Linked DNA regions of Homo sapiens. The protein of the gene in region 1 binds, or shares a complex with, the protein of each later gene. Each region holds a gene or a part of one and is shown on either strand. Other genes may lie near its edges.

Region 1 (8,282 bases):
TAATTTATAGGGAACCGATACTATGAAATACTATGTTATTATTAAAAAGAATGAAGTACAATGTATCTGTTATTGTTATTGAATGACTTCTAAGTCATATTGTTAAATCAGAAAAGTAAACCACAGAGCATTATTATATGACCCGATTTATGTTTTTCTTTTTTTAACAGACAGGATCTTACTATGTTGTCCATGCTGGACTTGAACTCTTAGGCTCAAGCGATCCTCCCACCTCAGCCTATCAAGTAACTGGGACTACAGGTGTGCGCCACCATGCCCAGCTTCATTTATGTATTTTTTCAAGTATATTCAATATATTCAGGTTGGTCCTAAAGTGAGAAATGTAGGTAATACTTTTTTATCATGTTTTATATAATAGCAATAAACTATATATTCACCTATGTTTCCAGGCTTGGTGACCATATTGAGCACACTGAAAAAGACCTAAAAAGACAGACATTTACAGTGGTTATCTCAAAGGTGGGGAGAAGGAGTAGAGAAGAGGTGGAGGGGAATTTAATTTATTTTCCTATATGTTACTGTGTTTTAAAATATTTACAGCTCTTAGTTTTGAAAAATTACTATATTCCATGAATGCTTTACATTATTTACCTAAGGTCACAAGTTTATAAGGGGCAGGGCTGGGAGGTAGGCTGTCTGACTTCAGATAGTGCTCTTAACACAGTGTTCTCTCACCCATTGCTTGAGTATAAAACAAACACAAACTAAAATAAAATTGAAATATACCTCCTCATGCTTTACCCCTGGCCAACTGCAAATTCCTTCCTTTATGCTCCAGCACTCCCTGAACATATTTGCCATGAATGCTATCCTCTCCCCTGCTGAGCACATAAAATGTGCAAGGAAATAGATTAAAACTAGTTGTAAGCCTTTTCTCTTGGTGTAGAAACAGAGTCATAGACGAGTACTGGGTGAATGAATGAAGTATGGAGTCATAAAGTCAATCCCTCCTCCAAACTCCAGGTAGCACTGATAGCTATCTCTAGTTCTGTTGATGTTTTTTGTTCTTATAGAAAAACAGCAAGAAGACACCATTTCTCCCCTGCTGTCATGCTTTACTGCATCTCAGAATGACAGTCAGTGCTTCCCAAGGTCTCACACAGAAGACGCAAGCAGCCTGCACACATAATTTGGTTAAACTGCACGCACATTAAAAAAAATGTTTTGAATCAGTTGCTATCTTTAAAAATATATGAAGCTTGTTTTCCGTAAAAATTTACAGTTTCCCCCAAAACTAAGATCAGGCAACCATGTGCTGGAGCCCCACCGCACCTGCAGCTGCCCCCTTACTGGAGACAGGCTTAGCAGCACACAGCTCCCACCCAGCCCTCCTGTCCACCCGCCTCCTGCACTCAGGCTTCCTGACTGGTCCCTGCTGGCAGTGGAGTTTACACCACAGAACTGTACCTCCTCTTGCTGACATTTAGGTCAGTTCCAGTTCAGCCCATTCTGTCTTCCTCGGAACCCAAACAGAGAGCTCGCAGCCCTCTGACCACACAGTGCTCCTTCACCTCTCAGAGGACGCACAGTGCACCAGGCTGCAACACAAAGAGAACGGTTCGGATATCGTTGCGGCCTTGGATTAGTTCCAAAATGTCAAGCGGGCCTCTTAATGAGGGGTCTCTATTCTTGATGTTATGGCAGTGGAGCTACAGGGCAGGGAGAAGCCCTGAGTTAAAGAACTCACCTGTGTGCCATCAGGAAACCACGTGAAAAGCACTACCAAGGCAAAAGATCTGAGTTCAATCTGGGCTGCTTACCTAGCTGGGCAAGAATGCTTCATCTCTCCTGAGCCTCAGTTTCCTCACCTATCAAATGGGCTAGTAGAGCTTCACAAGGTTGTTGTGTGAATGAAAAAGTGTACATGAAAGTGCTTGTAAGCACCTGACAAGTATAAAATAAGACGGGTGTGGAGGAGGACCGGAAGAGAGGTGCTCTGAAAGAAGTAACAGAAATGGGTGCCATGCATTCCAGTTACAGTTGAAGAGCCTCTGTCTCTATGACCTGAGGTCCCTCCCACCTCCTCTTTCTGCCCTGAGGGCCTGAAAAATGCCTCTCTTCACTTGCTCCCAGTGGCTGCAGTAAAATAGATTATAAGGGAAAACCGCCTATTCCCCGAAGCAGTAGCTCTCCAGAACTCATCTGGAGGTCCAGGTCACTAGGGGAGAAGAAGCCAGGCTGAATCCACGCCTGGCTCCACGGAGGAGCCACAAGGATGGCCATCCTCCCCCAGCCCCTAGGACGCTGAGACAGGCTCACCGGAGGTTATCGGTGTCTCCATTGGACAATCAAGGAACTGAGGTTCTTTCCCTCCAAAACCACACACCTCCTCACGGCTTCACCGGGAGGTGGATCAAATGACCTGCTCTATGAAAGCACTTTGCAAAAGGGATGAAAGTACAATAACAAGCAAAAATAGCCTCCAAGATGTGATATAAAGCGATGCCAATGCGCAGCTATGTGGTTACTGGTGAGCAGACCTCCGGGAAGCACAGGACACACCCCACTTACCCAACAGACGTTCTCATCCCATATGCCTTTGTCCAAAGGTTGCACGGGGGTTAAGCTTGGCCCAGAAGGCGCCGAGGGCTGGTCGAGTTCTCCCCTTTCCAAGAACCAGCCGAATCTCCCTCCCGCAGATCTGAGGGGCAGAGCCGCCCATCCGGCGGCGCCGGGCCACTTCTGGGCGCGCCACCCGCCGCCCGCCCAGGCTCGGGGAGACAGCGCCCTGAGTCCCGGCTGGGAGAAGGCTGCTCACCTGGTCCTCACGGATTCCAGCCGAGGGGCGTGACCGCTTCTCCCCACACCCTTTGCCCTGAGCGGGACGTGGAGTCTCTTGGCCCCAGGGGGCGCGGCCCGCATCGGCAGAGTCCCGGGCACGCACCTACGCCCTCCCATCCAGCGGACTGTTTAGGGGCTTCGGGCGGCGCCGGAGAAACGGGGCGGGCTGCACCCAGCAGAATGGGGTGGGCCTCTCAGAAGCCCCAGGCCGCAGGGGAGGGGCGCGCCCCCAACATCTTCCCACAAAGAGCTCCAGCTCTCCAAAGCAAGGCGCAGTGCGGGCGGAGGACAGCCCTGACCTCCGAGAGGGGCGCGGGGAGAAAGGGAGCGCCGTGGGGGCGGGGACCCTTCCCGGCCCGCGCCCTGAGCCCTCAGCCTCGCACAATGAGTTTAGCCTGGCTCCATCCGGACCGCCCTCTCCGCCCGGGCCCGCGCCCGCGCCCCACGCCGGGTGCTCACCGAGGAGCGGCCGCCGCGGCAGCTCAGGCCCCGGCCCAGCCGCCTCCCCGCCTCGGCCACCGCCGCCGCCGCTTCCTTCCTCCCCGCCGCGCTCCGGGACTGGAGGTTTCGGGTTTCAGCCCACCGAGCCCCGCTTCGCTCCTCCCGCGGGCCAGCCACCAGCACGCGGACCCGGGCGGGCGCAGGCCAAGTAACTTTGCGGCGCCCGCGCCCCGCCCCGCCCCCCCCACGCCCGGCCGGGCCCCTCCGGCCCCCGGAGCCCCGAGCCGCCTCCCCGCGCCCCGCACTGCCCCGCCCCGCCCAGCTCCCGGCGCCCCTCCCCACCCGCGCCCCTTCCTTCGCGTCCGTCCGCCCGCCCTCCCGGCTGCTTCTTTCCCATTTCTTCCCACGAACAGCCTCGGCTGCTGCTCTTTGTCTCGCCCTTACCCTCTCGGCTCGCCCCACTTTTCTCCTGAAAACCTTTGTGGTGCCTAACTCAGGCCTTCCCTGTTCCCGTTCCTCCGCCCCAGTTCCAGCCGCTGGGACGTCGCCTTTTCCATGTCTCTCTCCATCACACAGACACTTTCAGATTCTTCCCGCAGGCTCCGCACAGTCCCATTCTCCTCCTCCAGTCCCGCCGTGGACGATCCTGGTATCGCCTTTGCTGCTCACCTTTCATTCATCCAGCCGACGGGCACGAGCATCCATCTGCCTTCTGCCAGGCTCTGTCCCGGGCTCTGTTAATACCACAGTGAATTCGTCCCGAAGCCAGCCCCGGGGAGTGGGGAGTGGACGTAAACAGGTCTTCACACTGCTGCCCTGCACTCCCTCGGAACCAAAAGGCCAGGGAGCAGTCATCACAAAACAAAGAGCGGGCGCTGTCAGCTCGGGGGACGGAACAGTTCCTTCTCAGAATGTTTGTTTTCCCTTCCTCACTCCCCACTTTGCCTGCCTGTCTCCAGACTCCTACGTTTTCTATGCAGCAGTCTTAATAAGGGGATGAAAAGTTGAAGCACAGAGTAGAACTGCTAAAAAGGGAAAGAAGGAAGGACAAACAGGGCAGCAAAATAATCAGGTAAGAAGTTACAAAGCCCAGTTCACTAAACTCCAGAAAAAAAAAAACAAACCCTGATGCTGTGCTTAGAGCAGGATTCACATTCCTCTGAAATCCATCTGCTTTGATAAATACATTAATTATTCCCTTGTCTACAGATTGACACTGTGGGAGATGCTTCCTTAATATTATTGGGCCACTGAGGCACAATTTAGAACAGTAATTTACTGTCTGGCACCTGCCAAACACCCACATTGCTCTGGGGACAAATGGGATAATGGGGAGAAAAAAGTAAATGGGTGCCTTAATATTCCTATGGGATAAATGCTTTATTTGGTCAAAAACTGGAAGCTGACGCTCCACTTAAGAGTCTAGGTCACGCGGCAAGCCAGACACTTGAAGGAGCTTAAAGCTTTCTGTTCTTAATAGTATTTTAGACACTTATTTTGAAATCCCTGATATTTATTTAATTTACACTGACTCAGATGTCGGCTAAGCTCTATGAGCCTGAGGGAGTGAGTTAACCTTCCTCTCAGCTTATTCATATATAAAATGGGGATACTCATACTTTCCTATCTGTAGAGTTGAAAAGGTTAAATGAGGTCATGTAAGTAAATCATCCAGTGACATAGAATCTGAGAACTAAACCCTTTTGAAAATTGGTATTCACGAAAGGTCTGAAAATATATGCCACAGACTGGCATGGTGAGAATGAGAATAAAAAATAAACAGTTACGGCTGTTGTGGCTCCATACCCATCCATGATGCGAAAGATGTCCTTCATACTGAGCAACCTTTTCCCATACTTACTCTATTTCATTTTGAACTCTTCAACAGAAAACACTTTTTTTCTCCTGCTGCTCATTATCAAATGCATTATTTATCACAAAGATTTTTCTTTTTTCTGAGCTCATAAGCTCAGAACTTACTGTGCATTCAGGGATGGAAATTGCTGCCAACAAATGCATTTTCAATTGCTCTCTTAAGATTTTTTTCCCTTCTGGAGCTAATATTGAGCTATGAGCAGAATTCAATCAGATGCAGAGAAAACAGACAAATTATTATTAAAGTAATTATTTCACCGTATATCATTGTATAGGTGACAATTGTGAAAAACGTGACTGATTTTGTGCAAGAATGTATTTATATTTTTTTAGAAAAAGAGAAAGATACACACTAATTCTCCTTTCCCAAATTAGTTTAATAAACCATTCTGTTTTAGAGACATCCACAAAGACTTATAAAGTAAGATAATGAGAGGCCTTGTCCAACTGAACCTCACATGTGTGTTGAATAATTTATATATAAAACATATTTTATGTAAAATATCATTTCAGTCTAGCAGTCCACATAAAACTGGTGAAAGCAAAACTGTGAAATATGCTATTTGTTCCACATGGAATGTTATTTCCTCCACTCTTTACAGGCCAAGCCCTTCCTGCCCTTCACATCTCACCTTAAATGTCACTTCCTTAGAGAAGTCTTCCCTGATGGGATCTTGCTATGTTGCCCAGGCTTGTCTTTAACTCCTGGGCTCAAGCTATCCTCTCACCTTGGCCTCCCAAAGTGCTGGAATTACAGATGTGAGCCACTGCACTCAGCCCCTGACCAATCTAAAAGAAATTCTCTAATCTATGTACTCTTTCACAGCTCTGTTGTTTTTCTACATAAAATGTGTCCAAATTTATAAAATATGCATCAATTTTTCTATTTATTTGTTTACAGTATGCCTCCACTGATAGAATGGTAAAACCATTTGACCTCAGATGGAAACTTCCCTGAAACTGATGTGCCTCTGGACTGATCAGAAACAAGAGCCAATCAATATACATATATTTTTATTGAATCAGTATGGGTTTATTTCTGTTACTTGGAACAGAAAGCATCTCACTCAGTGATTCTTAATACGACATTTTGAAAGGCATTTTGGGTTTGTCACAATGATTAGAGGACACCCCAGGCATTTATTGGGTGCGGCCCAGGATACCAGACATCTTGCAGTACATGAAATAGTCCTACACAAAAAGAACAGTTCCTTTCACACATGACAGTAAAAACTGTCTATACTTTTCTAAGTCTGAAACCAAACTATTTTACATATATCCATGAGGGGTTTTTTTGCATGGTTTTGTTGTACAGCAATTTGTCTAGGAATGCAAGTACTATGTGAATTGAAGGAAGATTGCACCTTGATTTACTCAAACCTCACCAAGAGTTGTTCAGTATTTTGGAAATCACCTCACTATTAACAATGCCACTCATGGTATCAGATTTACTAGTACAAGTTAGGTGACTTGGTCTACATTTATATATCTGTGTCATACTTGCAGTGATCCTGTCTATAACTTCAAGTGTCTGACCACTTCATGATGTCATCCACTAGGGCTGATATATTGAAATGAGCATTATTGGGCTGGATGCGGTGGCTCACTCCTGTAACCCAAGCACTTTGGGAGGCCAAGGCGGGTGGATCACTTGAGGTCAGGAGTTCAAGACCAGCCTGGCCAACATGGCAAAACCGTGTCTCTACTAAAAATACAAATATTAGCCGAGCATGGTGGCACATACTTGTAGTCCTAGCTACATGGGAGGCTGAGGCACAAGAATTGCTTGAACCGGGGAGGTGGAGGTTGCAGTGAGCTGAGATCGTACCACTGCCTTGTCCTACACATCTCTTCCATCTGGCTTCTCTTGAATTGCATCCTTTGTCATAAACCAGTAATCAAAGTAAGTAAAGTGCTTTCTTGAGCTCTGTGAGCTGTTATAGGAAATTATTAGCCATGGGAACTCCTGATCTGAAGCCAAGTCGGTCAGAAGTACTGGAGGCCCTGGACATTCATGTGGTGCCTGAAGTGGGGACAGTGTATGGGACTGAGCCCTTAATCTGTGGAGTCTGAACTATCTCAGGCAGTTAGTGTCGGAATTGAATTGAATTGTTGGATACCCAATTGGTGTCAGAGAATTGATTGATGTTGGAAAAAATTCCACATATTTTGTATCGGGGGAAAAAAGTATCCTCAAGTACATTTATCTTTTGATCTATTAAAAAAATCCTCAAGTACACATTTATCTTCTGTTGCCAATAAAAAGCAACATTATATATTTGGGATACATTTGTAATTACAGAAGATTAAAAATGCCCAAATGTCTGTCAGTAGGGGATTAGAGGAATAAGTTAGGATTCAGTGCTACAAATGAATGAAGAAAATCTCTATACACTAACATGTAGTGGCCTCAAAGACGTATTGTTAAGTGGAAAAAAGCAAGGTGCAGGAATATTTGCTATACATTATCTTTTTTTTTTTTTTGAGACATGGTCTCACTTTGTTGCCCAGACTGGAGTACAGTGACGCGATCTCAGATCACTGCAACCTCTGTCTCCCAGACTCAAGCGATTCCCCTGCCTCAGTCACCCGAGTCGCTGGGATTACAGGCGCGCCCCACTACCACCAGGCTAATTTTTTATTTTTAGTAGAGACGGGGTTTCACCATGTTGGCCAGGCTGGTCTTGAACTCCTGACTTCAAATGATCCACCCTCCTTGGCCTCCCAAAGTGCTGGGATTACAGGTGTGAGCCACCACGCCCAGCCTATGTTATCTTTTATGTGAGAAAAGGAAAGAAAATAAATATATAGGTATTTGCTTATACTTAAAAGTGGAAAAACAAACCAAAAACAATAAAAAGAAGGTTTCCAATAAGGGAAAGGAACAAACAGAAGGAATGAAAAAGAAAGCAAGGTTTCTAGGAAGGTTCCTTGCTGTATGGCTTTGAAACTAAGTACATATTTTACAAATTTGAGAAAAGTTAACTCAAAAAAGAAAAAACCTCCAAAAACTGAAGAAAAACTAGGATGAATATCAAGTTGGTGGCATATGAACTTTTATTAGTTTTCTGTCACTGCATAATGATTACCACAAATTTAGCAGCTTAAAACACTCTATTATGTTGTCTGGGCTGGTCTTGAACTCCTGGCCTCAAGCAATCCCC
Region 2 (7,584 bases), on another chromosome or scaffold:
ATTCTAACACTCAGCACTGCTGTGCTTAACTATTCTTGAATTAGATAATCTCTAACTAATATGTAAAGTATAGCATTTATAGATTATGATGCTCCTTCCTTAGATACTAATCTCATTAAAAAAAGCATTTAAGGGCCTGACACGGTGGCTCACGCCCGTAATCCCAGCACCTTGGGAGGCCAAGGAGGGCGGATAACCTGAAGTCAGGAGTTCGAGACCAGCCTGGCCAACATGTCGAAACTGGGGCTCTGTTAAAAATACAAAAATTAGGCCGGGCGTGGTGGCTCATACCTGTAATCCCAGCACTTTGGGAGGCCGAGGCGGGCAGATCACGAGGTCAGGAGATCGAGACCATCCTGGCTAACGAGGTGAAACCCCGTCTGTACTAAAAATACAAAAAATTAGCCGGGTGCGGTGGTGGGTGCCTGTAGTCCCAGCTACTCAGGAGGCTGAGGCAGGAGAATGGCGTGAACCTGGGAGGCAGAGCTTGCAGTGAGCTGAGATCGCACCACTGCAGCAGTCCGGCCTGGGCAAAAGAGCGAGACTCTGTCAAAAAAAAATAATAATAATAAAAAAATTAGCCGGGTGTGGTGGCTCATGCCTGTAATCCCAGCACTTTGGGAGGCTGGGGTGGGTGGATCACCTGAGGTCAGGAGTTCAAGATCAGCCTGACCAACATAGTGAAACCCCGTCTCTACTAAAAATGCAAAAATTAGCCGGGTGTTATGGCGCACACCTTTAATCCCAGCTACTCGGGAGGCTGAGGCAGGAGAATCACCTGAACCCGGGAGGCAGAGGTTGCAGTGAGCCAAGATTGCGCCATTGCACTCCAGCCTGGGCAACAAGAGTGAAACTCTGTCTCGGAAGAAAATACAAAAATACAAAAATTAGCCAGGTGTGGTGACACATGCCTATAATCCTAGCTACTAGGGAGGCTGAGGCAGGAGAATCACTTGAACCTGGGAGGCGGAAGTTGCAGTGAGCCAAGATCATGCCATTGCACTCCAGCCTGGGAGACAAGAGTGAAACTCCATCTCAAAAAAAAAAAAGCACTTAAGCATCCCAAATTTACATGTGTCTTTTGGGGTGGGCTCTTCATCAAGTGCGTTACTGAAGCAACCAGTGGTGCGCGGCGCACCTGCAGGCTGTTCTGTGACTGAATAGTCCTATCACTGAATGAATGTTTTTGTGGAACTGAGTAGCTGCTGGGTGTGTACTTTCTTGTAACTCCACAGTGAGGATGTCTAACTGAGGTGCTTTCCTTTTTCTCCCCACCAAGATGTCACAGCTATCATTTACGTCGCAGCCTGCAGTAGCTACAACATGGTGATTCGAGAAGATAACAACACCAACAGGCTGAGAGAGTCCCTGGATCTTTTTGAAAGCATCTGGAACAACAGGTGACAAAAATAGCAAATTCAGTCTTACCATTGGATTGCAAATTTTCTTTTGTTAAAAATACGCTCAGGCCAGGCGTTGTGGCTCACACCTGTAATCTCAACACTGGGAGGCCGAGGCAGGTGTGTCACTTGAGCTCAGCAGTTGGAGACTAGCCTGGGCAACATGGAGAAACCCTGTCTCTACAAAAAATACAAAAATTAGCCAGGTGTGGTGGTGCACACCTGCCCAGTGACTCAGGAGCTTGAGGTAGGGGGATCACTTGAGCCCAGGAGGTAAGGGTTGCAATGAGCTGAGATCACACTACTGCACTCCTGCCTGGGCAACAGAGCAAGACCTTGTCTCAAAACACACACACATACCTACACCCACACCCACACACCCACACACTCTCTTTACTGATAAATCCAGAACCGTACGAAGTATCTCTTTTAGTTCATCTATTGTATAGATATACTTAAAATGTGGAATATTTTTTTTTATTATTTTTTTTTTATTTTGAGATAGAGTCTCGCTGTGTCACCCAGGCTGGAGTGCAGTGGCGCCATCTCGGCCCACTGCAAGCTCCACCTCCCGGGTTCATGCCATTCTCCTTCCTCAGCCTCCTGAGTAGCTGGGACTACAGGCGCCCTCCACCACACCCAGCTAATATTTTGTATTTTTAGTAGAGACCGGGTTTCACCATGTTAGCCAGGATGGTCTTGATCTCCTGACCTCGTGATCCACCCACCTCGGCCTCCCAAAGTGCTGGGATTACAGGCGTGAGCCACCGCACCCGGCCAATGTGGAGTATTCTTTGATGAAGTTCTGATAGTTCTTTGTCAAGAAAATTTAAGTCTCTGTTTTGAAAGGCTAAGATTATATTCGGCCTTCCATATCTTCAGGTTCCACATCTGCGGATTCAACCAACCACAGATTGAAAATATTCAAAAATAAATTTAAGATAGCAGTACAACAACAAAAAATAATACAAGATTACAGTGGCATACGCCTATAATCCCAGCACTTTGGGAGGCTGAGACGGGGGAATTGCTTGAGCTCAGGAATTGGAGACCAGTCTGGGCAACATGTTGAAACCCTGTCTCTACAAAAAATACAAAAATTAGGCATGGTGGGGCGCGCTTGTAGTCCCAGCTACTTGGGAAGCTGAGGCAGGAGGATCACTTGAGCCCAGGAGGCGGAGGTTACAGTAAGCTGCGATTGCATCACTGCACGTCAGTCTGGGCGACAGAGGGAGACTGTGTCTCAAAAAACGTAATTAATTAAAATAAAAAATTGAGCAAATAAAAAAATTGACTAAAAATAATACAAATAAACAATACAGTATAACAACTACTTACCTAGCTTTTACATCGTGTTAGGTATTTTAGGTAATTGGAGATGATTTAAGCATACGGGAGGATGTGCATGGTTTATATGCAAATACTACACCATTTCATATAAGGGAGCCTCCTCAAATTTTGGTTTTCACAGGGAGTCCTAGACCAATCCCCCACGGGTATCAAGGGATGACTCTATATCTAGGGTTCAAAATAGGTTTTGTTTGGTTTTTAAATTTTAGGAAGTACCAGTTTAGGGGCCGGGAACAGTGGCTCATGCCTGTAATCCCAGCACTTTGGGAGGCCAAGGCAGGAAGATCACCTGAGATCAGGAGTTCGAGACCAACCTGGCCAATATGGCGAAACCCCGTCTCTACTAAAACTACAAAAATTAGCCAGGAGTGGTGGTGGGCGCCTGTAATCCCAGCTACTCGGGAGGCTGAGGCAGGAGAATCGCTTGAACCCGGGAGGTGGAGGTTGCAGCGAGCTGAGATCGCACCACTGAACTCCAGCCTGGGCAACAGAGTGAGACTCTGTCTCAAAAAGTAAAAAAAAAAATTTTTTTAATTTTGAAAATAAATAAAGTACCAGTTTAGGACATCCACTAATAACTAGATGATCTCTAAGATCCCTTACAGCTCACAATCACCACATAATCATGTTTGAAACTACTAGCATTGCAGATTGGCAGAAGTGATTATTTCAGAAAGGAATATTTAGCGCGCACACACACAATACATACATATATAGTTAGAAATCAAAGTTTCTTCTGAAATATTTTGGAAGAAATATTACCAAGGAGGAGAGGAAACATAAGTTTACCTTATAAAAGTTTTGGATTATCAGAAAAGTGTTTTTGTATGAAATGTTCAACAACCATCCTCAAATTTGTGGTAATAAGACTGTTAATAGGAAAGAAACAGGGTCAGGAAATACCAGGTATACAGAAGGATACTATAGAGTTATTATGAATTTATTTATAAACACTATATGTGTAAGTGGGAAAATGACCACAATCTTCTTATAGGAAAAAGCTGATTTTAAAACACTATGATCTCGTTTTTAAGTATGTGTGAGGACAGAAAAAAACTTGGGCATGAAAACATAAAATTTCTGTAGTAATTGTTTCTGGGTATAATTACATTTGATTTTTTTCTGTATGTTTTTCTATAAGATTTGTTTTTACAAAGGTTATATATTTTATTACTAGAAGAAGCAGGTAAGCTATTTCCATTTGACGGGAAAGTGGATTGTGTGTGTGGGTTTTTCTTTCTTTTTTTTTTTTTTTGAGACAGAGTCTCGCTCTGTCCCCCAGGCTGGAGTGCAGTGGTGCAATCTCAGCTCACCACAACCTCCACCTCCCCAGTTCAAGCGATTCTCCTGCCTCAGCCTCCCGAGTAGCTGGGACTGCAGGCACGTGCCACCACGCCCAGCTACTTTTTGTATTTTTAGTAGAGACAGGGTTTCACAGTGTTGGTCAGGCTGGTCTCGAACTCCTGACCTCGTGATCTGCCCACCTCTGCCCCACAAAGTGCTGGGATTACAGGCGTGAGCCACCACACGTGGCCAAATTGTGTTATTAATTGATAGTAAGATTCCTGTAGACTAATCAGTTAGCTTGATTCCTTTGAAGTGATGGAGGCGGAAGAAGAACCAAGCCAGCTGCATGTTAAGCTCTGTGTTATTAGCTAATGAGTCATATATTACTTTGTTGTTGTTAACACTTTCACTTCTAATGTGAGTTTTCCGACCTTTTATTGGTAAATTACACCACAGAAATTCAAGTGAACTCATTACATAAGTAAATCTTAGCTTTGGTTCCAATAAATCTATATCCCCCATGGGACTGAATTAGAAAGTGCTTAACTACAGATTGAGTATCCCTTATCCGAAATGCTTGGGACCAAAAGTGTTTAAGATTTCTTGTTGTTGTTGTTTTTTGGAATAGTTGCATTATACTTACTAGTCCAGCATCCCTAATATGAAAATGCAAAGTGTCAAATGCTCCGACAAGCATTTCCTTCGAGCATCATGTCAGTGCTGAAAAAGTTTTGGATTTTGAAGCATTTTGGATTTTGTGTTTTTGGATTAGGGATGCTCAACCTGTACCTATATTTGTTTATCATTCTTTACAGATGGAATGAGGATACTGGTGTACTGAACTTTCTTGAATCCTATACATTTTTAGGAAGACGATGGTATTCTTTTAATTTAGCAACTTCTATGTTAGAGGCACTTTCATGTACTAGTGTATGTGAAATTTGTATGTTTATTTTTCCTTTTTTAGGTGGTTACGGACCATTTCTATCATCTTGTTCTTGAACAAACAAGATATGCTGGCAGAAAAAGTCTTGGCAGGGAAATCAAAAATTGAAGACTATTTCCCAGAATATGCAAATTATACTGTTCCTGAAGACGGTAAGATTTCAAAACACATTCTTATGATTGAGGAATAGAATTGTTTTATTAATAGTCCTGTAACTCTAATTCACATACCTCTGATGAATCAAAGAAATTCACTTTATTTAAATCAATTTTCTTTCTACTGCCCATATCCTAAAGTATTAGAGTGTTACAAGGTCCTATTTGTAATCGGATCCCATTTGTAAATGTTTCCGAGTTTGACTTTCCATTGAAACCGTGCAGCAGAAGAAAGAGCCATTTTGGGATGTGACTGTGTCATGCTGGTATGAGCTCTCCCTCTAGTGCCTTTGGCTGGGTGTGACATGACAGGTGCCTTGTTAGTCCTTGATACAGACCTTCTCACTTCACCCTCAGATGACCCTGCATGGTAGTTTCTATTATTTTTTCCCGTGGAAAGAGAGTCTGAGAGAGGAGAGATAGCGTGTTCAAAGCCACACGGGTAGAGTCATGCAGGCAAGGCAGTCCTTGCACCCTTTGTCCCCAAGCCCATGCTGGCAGCAGCCGCGCTTATCTGCTCCTGTCTCTAGCCTTGCTGTGGCTGCAGCCTTGGGGATTTCCAGCAGGGCCAGCAGCCATCCCAGGCCACCTGAGACTGAGGGGTTTCCGGGGCACGGGACCGTCAGTGCTAAAGCTGGGAAGGTAGACCAGGAAGAGTTGGTCACTCCGTTTCCAGTCGCTTACACTTCAGTTTCCAGTGAACACCAGGTCTACCAGAGGCTCATAGGAGTGATTTAAGGTGAAATAACACCGCTTCTTACATCTTGAATTCCAAACTAGAAAACGCAGAATAAAAGACACTTTCCTGGAAAATATAGTTAAGATTTGGAAAATTTATTTTTTATCCTCAATGAAGAGGGAAAAGAAAACTTGCATTTGTCATTAAACTTTTTTGCTCCTTATGTTCAATGTTCTTTTCTCCCTCATGGGAGAGGCATTATATAAGTATATTCATAGTAAAATCCTGACCCTTGTGGGGCCTTCCAACAAAATCCTACTGCTATCACCTGTGTCATAAAGACCCGAAAAAAATTCCTACTGCTACATATTTCCTTATAGGAATAAATAATAGACATTGGAAATGGGCCTGAGCACCAGCTCTGCCTGTGGTCTCACCAGACCCAGCTGCTTTCATGAGCCACCAGCAGTCTCCGCACCCGCCAGAGGGTCACTCAGCGTGAGGTCAAGGTCCAGGCTCTTCCTGAGACCAAATCAAGTGGAAATCTCATTGCAGTTCATCACTGCCTTGCTCTACCCGCAGCCTGATGATGTGCTTTCCAGGACTGAGGCCGGGTGCCGCTTGCCCATGGCACATCATCAGAGCATGGCTTCTGCTGCGCTTTCTGTGGCTGGCATTGCCAGTTTCCCAGCAAGCTGGGTCTTTAATTCTCCCGCTAACCGCCTCTTGCCACCTCCTGTCACTCAGCTCAGGCAGTGGCTCGGCGGCCGGGGGGTCCTTCCAACAGGGTCTGCCTCCCCAGGCCCTTCCCTCTTTCCCTCCTCATGGCTGTGGTCCAGGCCCTCACTCCTCTCGTCTCAGCAGCTGCCACAGCTTCCTGCCTGACCTCCTGTAGCTGGTCACTCACCTTTCCAGAACATTCTGTGAACTACCAAAGTCACCCTTCTGAGACACAACCTTACCTGCTTAGGAGCACCAAGGAGAAGCACCACCACTGGCTGACAGCCAAGGCCACCTGCCCAGCCGCGGGTGCTGAAGGGCTTCCGTCCAGGGGCTGAGGGGACCCTGGCTTGCTGCCTCGGTGCCAGGCCCAGTGACTGCTCTTCACCCAGCAGCATGCGTCATCTCCATCTGTGCCCTGCCTCTCCCAAGAGACTCACCCATCCCTGAGCATCTGCAGCACCTGCTGGAAGCCTGGGACCACCATCAACTCCAACGTCAACTCTCACTTAGCAATTAAAAGGAACTAACAGTTGGTCCATGTGACGGCATGGGTTAAACTCACAGTAATTGTGCTGACAGAAAGAATCAAAGCAAAAACTACACACCATGTGAATGCATTTGTGTAAATGTCTAAAAAGTAAATTAGCTGGGCGTGGTGGTGTGCGCCTGTAGTCCCAGCTACTCGGGAGGCTGAGGCAGGAGAATCACTTGAACCCAGGAGGCGGAGGTTGCAGTGAGCCAAGATCGTGCCACTGCACTCCAGCCTGGGCGACAGAACAAGGCTCCGTCTCAAAAAAACAAAAAAAAAGCACTCCAGCCTGGGTGACGGAGTGAGACTTAGTCTCAAGAAAAAAAAAAAGAACTCCTCAGATGGTACACGGACACTCTGGGCATTCCAGAGTATGTCAGTGACCCCCACCCCCGCCAAGATAAATGACATGGGCGCTCCCCAGCCACTCCAGAACACAGCCCAGGCAGAGACCCACAGCGGTTGCTGCACCCTTCCCTCCCTCACTGGATGCTGCACCCACCCACCCCCCACAG

What was found. The genes of interacting proteins can lie anywhere in the genome.
Region 2: the proteins of GPR161 (region 1) and GNAL are in contact, whole or in part, in a cryo-EM structure (PDB 8KH4), measured with the Homo sapiens proteins. Residues at the interface, in NP_001254539.1 of Homo sapiens: Arg125, Ala128, Val129, Leu130, Pro132, Met133, Tyr135, Pro136, Met137, Ile139, Ile211, Val214, Ala215, Lys218, Ala219, Lys267, Ala268, Thr271, Trp327, Asn328, Lys329, Arg332; in NP_001135811.1 of Homo sapiens: Ala41, His43, Lys203, Val204, Phe206, Phe363, Cys366, Arg367, Asp368, Ile370, Gln371, Arg372, His374, Leu375, Gln377, Tyr378, Glu379, Leu380, Leu381.

The regions. Positions count from the first base shown.
Region 1 is NC_000001.11:168,133,478-168,141,759, forward strand, and holds the start of GPR161 (G-protein coupled receptor 161), read right to left. Parts: upstream 3,454-8,282; 5' UTR 3,262-3,453; exon of another isoform or gene 2,920-3,261; coding exon of another isoform or gene 2,780-2,919; exon of another isoform or gene 2,533-2,779; intron 1,560-2,532; exon of another isoform or gene 1,445-1,559; coding exon of another isoform or gene 1,429-1,444; intron 445-1,428; exon of another isoform or gene 399-444; intron 1-398. UniProt on the Homo sapiens protein: Key negative regulator of Shh signaling, which promotes the processing of GLI3 into GLI3R during neural tube development.
Region 2 is NC_000018.10:11,867,264-11,874,847, forward strand, and holds part of GNAL (guanine nucleotide-binding protein G(olf) subunit alpha), read left to right. Parts: intron 1-1,279; coding exon 1,280-1,400; intron 1,401-5,004; coding exon 5,005-5,135; intron 5,136-7,584. UniProt on the Homo sapiens protein: Guanine nucleotide-binding protein (G protein) involved as transducer in olfactory signal transduction controlled by G protein-coupled receptors (GPCRs).